Homo sapiens: one gene and its partners. The protein of the gene in region 3 purifies or fractionates together with the protein of the main gene of each other region. This does not show direct contact. Each region holds a gene or a part of one and is shown on either strand. Other genes may lie near its edges.

Region 1 (2,923 bases), about 40 Mb from region 3:
AACTGATAGTGAGAGTTCTTTCATTTAAATTCTTTCCTAAACAAAACAATCCTGCCTTGTTGTTAGGGGTGCCGTCAGCTTAAATATGTAAATGTCCTTCACCTTTCTTGATTTTTAAGGTTTGTTTTCAGAAAAACAGGAATTGCAACTGGATGGCAAAATGCACATTTCAGCAATACATACAAATTCACATTTATTCCTACACTGGCTACAGAGAATACTCTGTTCTCCAATGTCTATAAACAGGGCCTGGCTCATAGTTCTAATTAATTAACTTTATTAACTTAGAGCTGAAAGGAGGTGGCAACTTAAGGAAATAAAAAGCAATAGACCTTGCCCGACTAGTTCCATATAACTGCTTTTTAACTGAAGGTAAAAGAACAGTCACTTACTTATTACATGTAATAAAGCAAAATAGATGCTTAGACAGACTGCATAGCACAGTCTATTCTCAGCTTATCCACAGAATGTTTTCAAAAAAAGAGAGACAAAAGAAAGCATTTTTTTTCATTTAGTGCAAGTAGCAAGTTTATTTCCTTTGATATAGAATTAACAGAGTAATGATGCCCAAATGAGGTAATATTACATTTGCTTAGGAAAACTTTCCTTGAAACACTTATTTAGATCTTTGTTAAAGTTATTGATTGTCAGATCAGAGAAATTGCAATCCCAAGTTTATTCATAAAATAAAAAAAGTTGTTACTTTGGAAATTTCAAAATGGCAATTTTATCTCAGAGTCATAATTACAAGGGGAAAAATACTCTCTTAGCCAAGATCAAGAATTTCGGCAGCACTGCAATTCTGTTTACATCCACGTTACACAAAAGCACATGCATTTGGCAAAGAGAGTGCATACATTCTTATTGCATCATTTTTCGTTATGTGCTCAATTGCCTTATGGTCCCCTAGAGGGTCTACTTAACATGAATTCAACAATGATGATAATGGGGTCACCAGTCATTTCCTTACATATATAGCTCTGATGTATTCAATTACATGTTTTTGATGTTGTGCTGGTAGTATATAGATCCCAATTAAGGAGAAACTTGGGCCTATATAAACAATATATATGGAATATACATGGATATGTAAAGACTTGAGGTTGATGACCTGACATCCATTAATGTTAAAAATAGTAAAGTAAAAATTCCAGTGGCTTAGAAAGATGGTATTTTCTTAAGGACACACTGCTGAACACATGGCCACCTACCTGCTCTCTAAAGCAATATGTATAATTTAACCACCAAATAAAGAACTGAGGAATACCAGGAGACAAAAAAAAAAAAAAAAGGATTAAAGCCCGGTACAATCTTGAATAAACCAAAACCTCCAGTACATAGAAAAAGCATTGCAATCATATATTTAGCTTTATTTTTCTAATATATATCATAATTTAAAACTATATAAAGTCACTTACATAAAAGCAATTTTTTCAAGTGTTATAGTTTAGAGCATGGCTTTATATTTGGCTTAATCATTTTTTTTAAAAACCAGTTTAACTTATAAAGCTCGTAATCTTGCCAGCAGGGCTTCAACTTCGGGAACTGATTCATTTTTAGAAAAAGAGCCAAGAAGTTCCGTTTCCTTTTTTCTGTTGCTTTCTACATTACACGCTTCCTTCTTCTCAGCTGCCTTGATCCTCCCAGTAGACGTATGAGTGTCTAGATTATAATTAAGCTCCTTGGCGACTGGAGTCCTTGTTGAGTTGCAATTGATATTGTAGTGTGAACGTGACCCTTCTGTCAACTGCACTTTCTGATTTTCTACAGTAAGGAAAAAAGAAACATAAAACTTATCACCATGATAACCAAGGACTGTGCACGTTATGAAACACATTTAAAATAATTATTCTCAATAAATAAGTAGTCTTCTTAGATAGACTAAACAAAGAAACAGTCAACAGAGTAAGACAGGTTTAAAATAATCACACAGGGGTTTAAGAATAAACTAAAATATAACAGCCAACCGTTTCATTAGCACTAATGCCCATTTCCTTCTTCCTTTATGCCTGACATGCCTGTCACGTGGTTATTATCAGGGCCTGGTCCCATATTTCTTTCAGGTCTCTGTTCAAACACCACCTAAAAAGAGAGGCCTTCCCTAGCCACCCATCTAAAATAGCATTTGCCCTTTGCACTGCTCTATCCTTCCCCGTCATGTTTTCCTTCACAGGGCACATGATGGCTGGACACACAATATATTTGCTCACTTGTCCATTGTCTGTCTTACTAGAATGTGTGCTCCAAGACAGTAGGGACATTATTTTAAATACTGCTGTAACTTCAGGGCCTAAAATGGCCCTGGTGCAAAGTAGGTCCTCAATAAATATTTGTTGGATAAATAAATAATTTCCACACTCTGTGACACAAGATTAAACATTAGCTTGAATAATAATGAGATTAATTTCCTTTTTGAATGAAATCAAGAAGGAAAGTTTCTAATAAGAATTTAAAAAGTCGATTATTTTCCTTTAAAGAAACAATGAACTTGGCAAGCAAATAATTAAAACTTCCTAGCAAACCAGAATGTTATATGTAATTGTCAAGTATATACACATCTATACATACATGCATGTACATATATACATACACACATACATTCTTTTATTGGTAAGTGATGGTAATGATGACTTTTAAAAAACAGACACCCTCAATATTCATGTAACCTTGAATGGGGCTTGAAAATGGCTTCAACAAACCTGACATGACATTTAAAGTTTTTTGGTTATTCTCTGAGAGATGTTCCATTGTCCCAATAGTAATGACTTTGGAGCACAAGCAGTCACTCATGACAGTGTGTTTTATGTGAGTGCTGAAAATTCCAACTGAAAACAGCTTGTACATTAAAAGGTGGCTGCTGAAGATATTTACTGCACTGTCATTTTCTGACCAGAGGCTTCCAGTGATGGATGAGGATTTTACA
Region 2 (3,500 bases), on a different chromosome or scaffold from region 3:
AGACCCATTTCTATTAAAAAAATGAAGAAAAGTAGCTGGGTGGGTGGTGTGCACCTTTAGTCCCAGCTACTCAGGAGGCTGAGGCAGAAAAATTGTTTAATCCCAGGAGTTTGAGGTTATGGTGAGTGATGATTGAGCCACTGCACTCCAGCCTGGGTGACAGAACCAGACCCTGTCTCAAGAGGAAAAAATAAATGTTTTGATTTTTTTTTGTCTTTCATGATACCGAAGCAATAAAAAGATTTATAGAACTTGTTATTTAAAAAAAAACTTGGTGTTAAGAGAATCCTGTAACCAACTTAAAATTATTGTGCAGTCTTCTTTTTATTTGGGTGAGAGGGTGTGGTAAATTTTTGGTATAGGGAATACAAAATAAAGAATTGGGCAGTATTGGTAATTCAGTCCTTTATAAATTCTCAAAGCACTTATAATCAGTAGATGTGATACATGGGCAAAATGAACAAAACAGAAAATACTTACTGGTAAATTAAGTATAAATACTCCTATGGTAAATACATTGTTAACATAGAAATATCTAAGTTAGAAATATCCAAGTTCAAACTTAGAAATATGTGAGTTTCTCCTAAGAAATTTTCTGTATAACCAAGTTCCAGATGAGCAAAAGACATTGGTTTGTTATGGAACCTCTGTAGAATAGGAAATGTTTTTAGTAGTTCAGATGTATTTTTTTCTTACCTTGTTGAGAACAAAACAGAATTATGTTTTTCAGGTTGCCATGGCTCCGTAGAAAAGAGCTCCTCTGGGAGAATAACGTTAGGAGAGCAGGCAGCTGCCCTAGCAAACCCTCATGACCGTGTGGTGGCTTTAAGGAGAGTGACTGCTGCTGCTCAGGTTCTTCTGGCCAGAACCATGGTCATGAGAGCGCTGTCTCTTCTCTCAGTCAGGTAAGTGTTATTTTATGTCACATGATGCTAAGTTAACTTCTAGTGTACATTAGCTGGAAGTCTGGTGGTGTTTGGGAGGGTGAGATAGAATTTTAGAAGCTTGAATATGTACTGTTGAATGAAAGATGTTAGACGTAGTCATTGTTATTCACTCAATCGGTCATTCAGTTAATACTTGGCTCTTTTTAGGTAGAAAATAATGCCATTATCACAACTGAGTAAACTGCATACATTTTATTTTGTTGCTTGAAATGGGAAACTAAGGCTGTTGATCCCAATGGTGCTGGATCAAAAACTAAAGGTCAAAATGTATTGACCGTCTGTGTAGCTAAGTCAGCCTGCAGATGCCATCATGGGGATCCTTGCCGTGTTGATACTGTGGAGTGTAATGTAAAAAGGGGATGAGAACCAGAAATACCTAAAAGACAGCTGTTTAAGAAGTGATTAAGCAGGAGTATTTAATGGCAAATCAGTGAAGGCAGAAAGATCCTGAAAGAAAAACAAAATTTCCATAAGACTGTGTGCTATTGGCTCAAGGATAGGCAAATAGGATAGTACAGAAGAGAGTTAAGAAACTGACCCATACATATAAATAAACACTTGATTTATGGTTTGATTTATGACAGTGGTTCACACTGTAGAGCAATAGAGAAAGGCTGTTTTTTTCAGTAACTGAAGCAGGGTCTGATGGTTTATCCACATAGAAAAAAAAAGCCTTGGTCCCAACCTCAAACTATATAAAGCAAATAGTTATAAAGTGGCTATTAGATCTAAATATAAAAGAAAAATAAATCAATAAAGTTTATTGAAGGTAACATAGAAGAATTGCTTCTTGGTCTTGGGACAAGCAAAAATTCCTCAAGCAAGTCACAAAAGGAATCTGCCATAAAAGATTGATAAATTGGAATACAATAAAATAGAAAACCTCTGTTTAGCAAAAGTGATTTGAAAAGTAAGAAAGTAAAAAAGCAAGCCATAGAATGGGAGAAGATATTAGTAATGCATCTAACCAACAGAATGTGTAAAGAATTCCTATAAATTAACAAGAAAAAGACAACCCAGAAGAAAGTGGACAAAACACATTAAGAAGTGTTTCACAAAAGAGGATCTCCAAATGGCCAATAAACATGAAAAGATGTTCAACCTCAGTGAGTCTTCAGAGAAATGAAAATTAAAATCCAGTGTGATTGGGAGGCCAAGACGGGAAGAACCCTTGAGCCAGGAGTTTGAGACCAGCCTGGGAAACATAGTGAGACCCTGTCTCAAAAAAAAAAAAAAAAAAACCTAAGACAAAAAACCCACCAATGAGATACCATTGCACACCCACAAGAATGGCAAACATTTAAAACACTAGAGAGAAAAAAGTGACTGAAACAGCTAAAACTCCCATACATTGTTAGTGAGAAAATGAATTGGTATAACCACTTTGGAAAACTGTTCGATAGTATCAACTAAAACTGAACAGGAACATACTCTGTGACCCAGAGATCCACTTCTGGGTATATATCCAACAGAAATACTTAAATATGTGCCCCCTAAAGACCAATCATTCATGGTAGTACTATTCATAATAGCCCCATGTTGGAAACCGCCTGATTGTCATCTGTAGGGATAAATGAACTGTGGCAGATTTCATGTATATGTCAATGAAAACGAACTGCTCAATGCTACAAGATTTGGATGAATCTTACAAACATAATATTGAAGAAGCCAGACACAAAAGAGTACATATATTAATTATTCAATTGATGTAAAGTTCAAAAACAGGCAAAACTAACTTGTAGCTTTAGAAGTCAGGATAGTGGTTACTTCTGAGAGCATCGTGACTGAGAAAAGCCCAAAGCAGGTTTCTGAGGTACTGGCAATGTTCTGTTTCTTGATCTGGAGGGCGGTGACATGGGTTTGTTCAGCTTATGAAAATTTATGCTTTGTGAACATTCCTGTTTTACTTTGTCAGTTCAATTGTACTTCAAGTATATGCCAATACTTATTAAAAGGAGAGAACGTTTAGATGCCAGTTTCCAGCTTGATACCTTTGGCAACTCTTAGGACATGTATGGCTAATGATAGTGCAGCTTACATTTTATTATGGTTGTTGATGCTGTGAATGTTATGTGGGACTGCAAATGGTCCCTTAAGAAATCCATTTTCTTTATCCATCTGAGATGTTTTTCTTTACTGGCAGTGGTTCCAGTTGTAGCCTGGCTGCTGGTCTTGAGTCTCTGGGGCTAACAGATATCCGAACGCTAGTTCGATTAATGTGCTTGGCAGCAGCAGGGAGAGCTGGCCTCTCCACCAGCCCTTCTGCCATGGCTAGCACCTCAGAACGATCACGAGGTGGGCATAGCAAGGCTAACAAGCCTATCTCTTGCCTGGCCTATTTGAGCACAGCAGTGGGATGTCTGGCATCAAATGCTCCTAGTGCTGCCAAACTGCTTGTACAGTTGTGTACACAGGTAAGCTACTTTCAGTACTTTTCCCCGTTACATTGATTATTTCTGACTGATTCTTGAGCCTTTTGAAATGAAATATTTTTGTTCCAAAATTACATGTAAAAATTAAGTCTGTTTTTCCAATTGCTTCTTCAGAACTTGA
Region 3 (4,116 bases):
AGTGCTTTAAATCAGAAAACAAGAATTAGCTAGCTTACACATTCCACTGAATAGTGTCAAAAAAGATAAACGTATTTAAAATAAGTTGTAAGTCCAGCAAATATAAGCTTGATGGGTTAACTAACATATTAAGTAATTACAAAGATTCATTTTTTTACAAACTTTTAAACTATTTTAATAAAATGGCTATAGACCTCACTGTACTTCTATTTATCTGTGCATTAATAAAAACCTGTTAAAATTCCTTATTTAGTACTTCTGAAAAAGTCTAGTCAAATAAGATCACTAAAATTACCAGAAAAGCTTTGAAATACTGATTGCAGATTCATTTCAAAGTAGATTTAACACATTTCAGGATCTGGTGTTTAAATCATGAATGTCTTCACCAGCGTCAACTCTGAAAATATAAAAATTTTAGTCAGTGCTGGCTGTAACAGTACTGGCATTACTTGAAAAAATAGAAATAAAAAATACATTGTCAATCATGCATTCCACAATTTTCTTTTTGAGCTCGATAGTATATATATTTTTTCTCATTAAAGATTCAAAACCAAAAGTGGTTTCTCTTTGCAGCAAATATACATTAAAATAGAGTCTCTGTACAGCCAAGGGCTCTGGGCCCTGGCTTGCCCCATGTCTCTGCGCCTCCCTGGCCAAACCCAAAAATAAATATAGTGTTATTGTTCTGCAGGGCATAGAGGCAGTGCTCTCCTACCCCCGAGGAGGCTGGGTGGGAGCTGATGGGGAAGCCCTGGCCACCCCAGGGGTCCAGGGGCTGGAGCCTGCTTGGAGTTATTGCTTCAAGGCCGGGCACTAATGCCCAATGCAAATGATGAGAGGAGGAGCAAAGGGAGCATGGGCCTTTGCTCTCCAAGTCCCACTCTGCTCTGAAGAGGGGGTAGGATTAAGCAGCAGCAAAAGCATCACCCACTGGGAGACTGTGGCCTGCACCCCCTTCCCTCCCTGAGATAGGCTTCTGCCTCCCACACATCCCCTGCAGCCCCCTGTGGCTTCGGCAAGGCCCCCTACACTCTTGGGGCACGCTATGGCTTGCAAGGGGCAGCACTGTGCCCAGAGCCCGGACACACGTTTCCAGCTTCTGACATCCCCTAGGAGGGGGGAGGGGAGGGAGTGGGGCCTGCTCCCAGGGGCTGATGGCATTGCCCTGGCCCTGCCAGCAGGCTGTGGCACTGCCCAGACCCCAGCTCCGCCCCAGCCCTTGGGGCTGACCCCATGCTAGGCAGGTCCTGCCAGAACCCCCACCAGTCCCACCCCTCGCCTCAGTCCATCATGGCCTCGAGCATCTCCAAGAACAGCTTGTGCATGGGCACCTTGCCCTCCAGCTTCACCCCATAGAAATGGGCCAGCACTTTGCCCGCTGTCTGGTGGAGGAGCGGTAGCGTGAACAGCAGCCTGCCTGGCCGCCGCCGCTCAGCACCCCCTCCGGTGCCAGCTCGGCCGGCTTCATACTCCAGCAGGGCCTCGTGCGGAGCTTCTGGCAGCTGCTCCACAGCCTCGGCATCTTCGATGGGCACAGAGTCTGAATTGGCAAGGGCCAGGGCCTTCAGTAGAACGTACTCCCCTCGCTCCAGCCGCAGGGACTGCAGCCGCCGCACCAGTTGCAGCAGGGCAGCCCCCAGTTCCCCCAGGCCAGCTGCCCGTGCCCCCTCTTCATCCAGGACTAAGTCCTCAGCGAAGGCCAACTCATCCTGCAGTGGCAGTGAGCGCTGGGCCACACCCGGCACCAGCACCTCCATTCATACTCTCTGCAGTACTGACATCTGGTCAGACAGCGACAGCGATGAGAAGCCTGGGATGCTCTTGGCCCAGCTGATGGTGACCACGATCTCTCGGTCAAAGAGGTCACAGAGGGTAGCCACGGCTGGAAGGTGCCCATCAGGGCCAGCAGGGTCGGGCAAGGCATAGAGCTTCTCAGGCTCAACCACCATTAGATGAGACACCAGTGCATTCACTGGGCCTGTCGTCTGGGGGCCTCCAGCGACTGCCAGGGGCCCAGCAGGGAAGGCGCCCGGGAAGGGCAGCGGGTCCACCTCTGGCACCGCTTGTACTCCCGCCCACCCCGGACGCGGTCCAGGCGCGCTCCCGCAGGCTCTTGGTGAAGCGGCAGGCCTGACAGGCCTTGCGTCTCCGCTTGGTGATCTCACACTCGTTGGAGGCCAGACAGCTGTACTCCATACTCCCCTGGATGGTCCTCTTGAAGAAGGCTTTGCAGTCCTCACAGGATGACACACCGCAGTGGTAGCCGGAGGCCACGTCCCCACAGACCAGGCAGAGGCGCTTGGACAGGGAGCTGAGCACCAGCTTCCCACCGCCCTGCTCGCCAGGCCCAGCCCCCTCCCCATCCTCCTCTTCCTTGTGGCCTGGGAGGCAGTGGGTGGGAGCTGGACCAGGGGCCAGGGCCACAGGAGGCTCGGGTCTCTGTCTCCGAGGAGCCCTTTGGACTGTCAGGCCTGGCCGGCTCTGCCATGATGTAGTGGCTCACTGCCCACCACCTGGCTGGACATGGCGCTGGTCACCTGACACGCGGCTGCCCTCCTGCCCCAGCATGCCGATCCCAGGCACACGGCGGGGGCCGCTCCACCTCCTCGCGACCGGCCTGCAGGTCCACTCTAATATTCCCGCTGTCGCAGACGCCGCCACCTCCCGGGGCGCCGCGCCCCGCCCCCCAACCTAAGCACACCTTTGGGAAGTTGCCTAAAGTTGCTACGCCTCCCCGCAAGCCCCGACGCCCGCGGGAGACCGCTACCAGGTTATCAGGAAGTAAGTGGGGAGAGCCAAGGAAGAGGAAGTTCTTCCCGGCCGTTGCGATGACCTTTGACCCAGAGAGGAGGGTGGCCCCAGGCCCCTTCGAGCGCCCCCACGTGGTCTTCAGAGCCCCTTTCCCGACATAGAGACTTCCCCGTCTTCCACCCCGGCCAGCCCCAGGGACTTCGGCAAGCGAGGGATTGAACCCTGCCCCGGGGCGGGCTGGATCGGAGGCCCAACCCTGACCCGGGCCAGGACCCGCAGCCAGAGCCAGATCTTGCCCCAGGCCGGCCCACCAGAACTCGGACGCCAGATCCCGCCTGAACCCTGACCAGTCCGGACCTCGACTGGGCCCCGACCGTGGCCCAGACTGGCCCCAGAGCCGGCCCCCGCCTGGAGCCCGCCCTGCCCTCCTCCCTGCTGCCTCATCACACAATTTCAAGAACTAAGTGGCCGGAAGCGGTGGCTCACGCCGGTAATCCCAGCAGGCCAAGGTGGGCGGATCACGAGGTCATGAGATCGAGACCATCCTGGCTAACACGGTGAAACCCCGTCTCTACTAAAAATACAAAAAAACAAAAATTAGCTGGGCGTGGTGGCGGGCGCCTGTAGTCCCAGCTACTCGGATGCTGAGGCAGGAGAATGGCATGAACCCGGAAGGCAGAGCTTGCAGTGAGCCAAGATCCCGCCACTGCACTCCAGCCTGGGCAACAGAGCAAGACTCCGTCTCAAAAAAAAAAAAAAAAAGAAAAGAAAAGAAAAAAGAAAACAAAACAAAACAAAAAACTAAGATATGTAACTATAAATATTGTTATGTCTTTGCAGGTTATCTCAACTTCCATCAGGCCTCAGCTGAAAGCTCATCTGCCAAAACGCATCAGCACTCATGTAAAATAAAAGGAGTAGGGAGGTGACTTTGTACACATACTGTCCAGTGTTTGGCTGCCAGTTTCCCTCTTGTGTGTAACTATTCTAGGTATGACTCCTTGAGCATGAAATGAGGGGTAGATAGAACAGCACAGCTGTTGGGCTAACAAGAATTGGTGTGTAGACTGGGCACAGTGGCTCACCAGTGTAGTCCCAGCACTTTGGGAGGCCAGGGCAGGAGGATCACCTGAGGTCAGGAGTTCAAGACCAGCCTGGCCAACATGGTGAAACCCTGTCTCTATTAAATATACAATTATTAGCTCTCTATTAAAAATACAAAAATTAGGCTGGGTGTGGTGGCTCACGCCTGTAATCCCAGCACTTTGGGAGGCCGAGGCAGGTGGATCACGAGGTCAGGAGTTCAAGGCCAGCCTGGCCAAGATGCTGAAACCCTGTCTCTACTAAAAATACAAAAAAACTAGC
Region 4 (3,500 bases), on a different chromosome or scaffold from region 3:
TTAAAATGCGTTTTCCTTTCTATACATACTACTGACCAATTAAACTCTGCCATAATTGAATGACTATTATCTAAATATTTTGTTGTAACAGTCATAGTTTAAGCAACAACCTTCAATATCATTTCAAATATGCTTTGAAAGCAAAATTTTAACATTAAGATAACAAGGGAGAAATACTCAAATCATAATATAAAACTCAATATATCAAAACACACTTAAAATTCATGAGCAAATTTAAAAGGGACACATTATACAAAAAATCAAGCTGATTATCAATTTTAAAAAAATTCCCATGAAAAATGATATAAATATGCTACAGGAAACACAACAGGTGTAATGAAACTTGACAGTCATCACTAAACTACTGGAAATAATTCTGAGAAGACACAATTCATATATATACTATGGCAAAATAAAATTCAACTGTACTTAGAATATCTTGTTATTTTATTATTTTATCCTATCAAAATAAGCTATATAATCTGACTCAAATAGGGCTCTAAAATGCAGCTCTGATTCAGTTACTTGATCTAAAATGAATCTGAAAGCACCTGACAGAAAATATATAGAGATATTAAGTAGTATTTAATCTTTCAATGATGACACTTATTGAATCTGAATAATCTGTAGCATTGATCTTTTGATCTTTTCCTACCAATTATTAGTATGCAGTTATTGGCAATACCAGAAGCAGCTAAAAACTATAAAATCAATAATTTAAACTTATGTTTAAGGATAATTATATAAAAGTCATTATATAATATTTACTCAAAGCATTTTTCTCTAGACAAAGAAATATTTTTACTTTAAGCTCAGGGAATTTGTTTCTAAGAGAAGTCAGAACAAAATGCCACAGTTCCTCCCACTCACAATTATACAAACATTCACTGACACAAATCTCAAAAGCCCAATAAAATAACTTTAACGTAACAAATGATTTTGCAAGACTATCTCTGATCAGCCAGACCAATTTAGGAGCATGTGAAGGGAAGTGTCTGGACATTAGTTTTACTCGAGTTTTGGCTTAATTGTACTTAACAAAAAATTAGTATTATACTCATTTCTAATTAATCATATGACCACATTTCTGTCCTTTTTCTCTATATACACACATATATTTTATGACATATTTATGTACCTATTGCAAGCTATTCTGCTTAATCACTATTTACACATATATGTGCAAAAATTCTTTTACACTACTACCTCTGCTTTCCATATTACCCATCACTGTGGCATATGGTAATCACAGCAGCTACTCATCTGTTTGCCCTTATTTCCCTGCAGAGGGAATTAATTTCTATCCTATTCATTTTATTAATGGTAATATAATTACCCATAATATAAAAATGTCATTAGTAATTCAAAGAAAAATGTAATTATTTAAACAAGTAGTTTTTTTGGTTTTTTTTTTTTTTGAAGTCTTGCTCTGTCGCCCTGGCTGGAGTGCAGTGGCGCGATCTCGGCTCACTGCAAGCTCTGCCTCCCAGGTTCACGCCATTCTCCTGCCTCAACCTCCTGAATAGCTGGGACTACAGGCGCCCGCCACCACGCCCAGCTAATTTTTTTGTATTTTTAGTAGAGACAGGGTTTCACCGTGTTAGCCAGGATGGTCTCGATCTCCTGACCTCGTGATCCACCAGTCTCGGCCTCCCAAAGTGCTGGGATTACAGGTGTGAGCCACCGCGCCCGGCCTAAAAAAAGTAGTTTTAATATCTTCTTTTTTTTTCTAATAGAGACAGAGTTTGCTATGTTGCCCAGGCTGGTCTTGAATTCCTGGGCTCAAGTGATCCTCCTGCCTTGGGCTCCCAAAGTGCTGGAATTACAGGCATGAGCTACTATGCCTGCCCTAGTTTTTAATTTAATGATGGAAATTTAGGAGGCCTAAGAGATTTCATCAAGTAAGATAACAATACTAGTATAACGGGTCTATAAAATACAAGGTCTTTTTCAGACTTTTGTAACTAATCTTCCTTTTGATGGACACTTATGATGAAGGAAACCTGTAGCTCGCATATTGAACTCTTTTTCCCAAGAACTTAGTCCAGGTAACAGATTCCATTTATACCAGTGGCAACATGGTAGGTCTCAAGTCTTTAGCAGCAATAGTCTAGAAGATTGTAATGTTGAAGTTCCACTCCTAGAAAACAGACATTTGTTCTTTATAAAATGAGGTAGGACATGGACTTCAAAAGTAAAGAAGGAAGTTGGGGACTGCCACTGAAAATAAGGAGACTGTATACTCCAAAGCTGCCTTCTTAGCTTGAAGTCAAACTCACACCTCTTTAAATAACAAATTCCAGGAAGATCGATACTTCAAAAACTGTAATGAAGTTCACACTTATCAAATCTCTCCCCTCGCCCTCCTACCAGCATCAAGAAACAGATCACTGACCTATATTCTTTCTTTAAAACACACACATAACACATAAACAAACACACATAGAGAGTTCTAAGTTGGTTTTTGTGTAGAGTGTGCCTTGACTGGCTTTTTCCGTTAAGTCATTGGTTTGAAACATTTAAAAGGGTCCACATTGCTAACGTGGCTTTGCCTTAAATTGCAAAACCTGCACTTTAAATGTACATTAATTACAAAAATTTTAGCAAGTTGTACTATGCATATTTGGCAAAACAGACCAAAAACGAAGCAAAATCACCACTAAATGCATAAAATTAAAAAAAAAAAAAGGAGTTGCTATGTGTATTTTAGAAAATACTTCTAAAGTAAAACAGGAATATATCTCAATAGTGGAAATGAGATCTGAAAAAATTAACAGACACTATTTTATTTTTCATTCATTTTGTTTTGAATGATTTTGTTACTTTAGTGATTTTTTTTAAGGTGAGTGAAGTAAATGGTAAATTATGAGAGGGAAAAAATGCAAAATTATTTAACTGTAAGGAAACTGTGCCACTAGGGAAATCTTAAAAGGGAACAAGATGTATTTAAAATTTTTTGACTGGGACATCAAACAAATCCCCTTTACAGAGCAAAGGCAATAACATCAATTAAACTTAATACATATGCCAAATTACTGTATCTCATATGTCACAATAATCTTTGGTTAAAAATTCAGATTTAATACTTATAAATATCTAGACTTAGAGTTATACATGATTCAAGTATACCCATATATCTTCGGCTAAAATCAATTTTGGAAAAAATGTTTAAGTAGTACTTTCATTTCCTACACATTTCTGGTTTAGGCAAATTTTATAAAATTCATTACTAGGTAGCGTATACTTGCTACCAAGTTAAAGAATAATGATGCTGCCTTATTCTCAAATGATTAATTTAGGTAACAGTTACATATATTTTTTGAAGTAATATATATTTAATGTAACAGATTGGGCACTGTGGCTCACACCTGTAATCCCAGCGCCTTGGGAGCCAAGGTAGGCAGATCACTTGAGGTCAGGAGTTCGAGACCAGCCTGGCCAACATGGTAATATTCTGTCTCTACTAAAAATACAAAAAATTGGCCGGGGAATGGTGGTGT

Evidence for each region. The genes of interacting proteins can lie anywhere in the genome.
Region 1: the proteins of TPTE2 (region 3) and DIAPH3 purify together in Homo sapiens (affinity purification with mass spectrometry; 3 studies listed by BioGRID and IntAct, with this or other methods). This does not show direct contact.
Region 2: the proteins of TPTE2 (region 3) and HERC1 purify together in Homo sapiens (affinity purification with mass spectrometry; 2 studies listed by BioGRID and IntAct, with this or other methods). This does not show direct contact.
Region 4: the proteins of TPTE2 (region 3) and STRN3 purify together in Homo sapiens (affinity purification with mass spectrometry; 2 studies listed by BioGRID and IntAct, with this or other methods). This does not show direct contact.

Annotation. Positions count from the first base shown.
Region 1 is NC_000013.11:59,665,083-59,668,005, forward strand, and holds the end of DIAPH3 (protein diaphanous homolog 3), read right to left. Parts: intron 1,765-2,923; coding exon 1,502-1,764; 3' UTR 501-1,501; downstream 1-500. UniProt on the Homo sapiens protein: Actin nucleation and elongation factor required for the assembly of F-actin structures, such as actin cables and stress fibers. Required for cytokinesis, stress fiber formation and transcriptional activation of the serum response factor.
Region 2 is NC_000015.10:63,655,949-63,659,448, reverse strand, and holds part of HERC1 (probable E3 ubiquitin-protein ligase HERC1), read left to right. Parts: intron 1-715; coding exon of another isoform or gene 716-730; coding exon 731-905; intron 906-3,090; coding exon 3,091-3,361; intron 3,362-3,493; coding exon 3,494-3,500. UniProt on the Homo sapiens protein: Involved in membrane trafficking via some guanine nucleotide exchange factor (GEF) activity and its ability to bind clathrin. Acts as a GEF for Arf and Rab, by exchanging bound GDP for free GTP.
Region 3 is NC_000013.11:19,558,733-19,562,848, forward strand, and holds the start of TPTE2 (phosphatidylinositol 3,4,5-trisphosphate 3-phosphatase TPTE2), read right to left. Parts: upstream 2,801-4,116; 5' UTR 2,702-2,800; exon of another isoform or gene 2,607-2,701; intron 398-2,606; 5' UTR 296-397; intron 1-295. UniProt on the Homo sapiens protein: Acts as a lipid phosphatase, removing the phosphate in the D3 position of the inositol ring from phosphatidylinositol 3,4,5-trisphosphate.
Region 4 is NC_000014.9:30,914,880-30,918,379, forward strand, and holds part of STRN3 (striatin-3), read right to left. Parts: intron 1-3,500. UniProt on the Homo sapiens protein: Calmodulin-binding scaffolding protein which is the center of the striatin-interacting phosphatase and kinase (STRIPAK) complexes.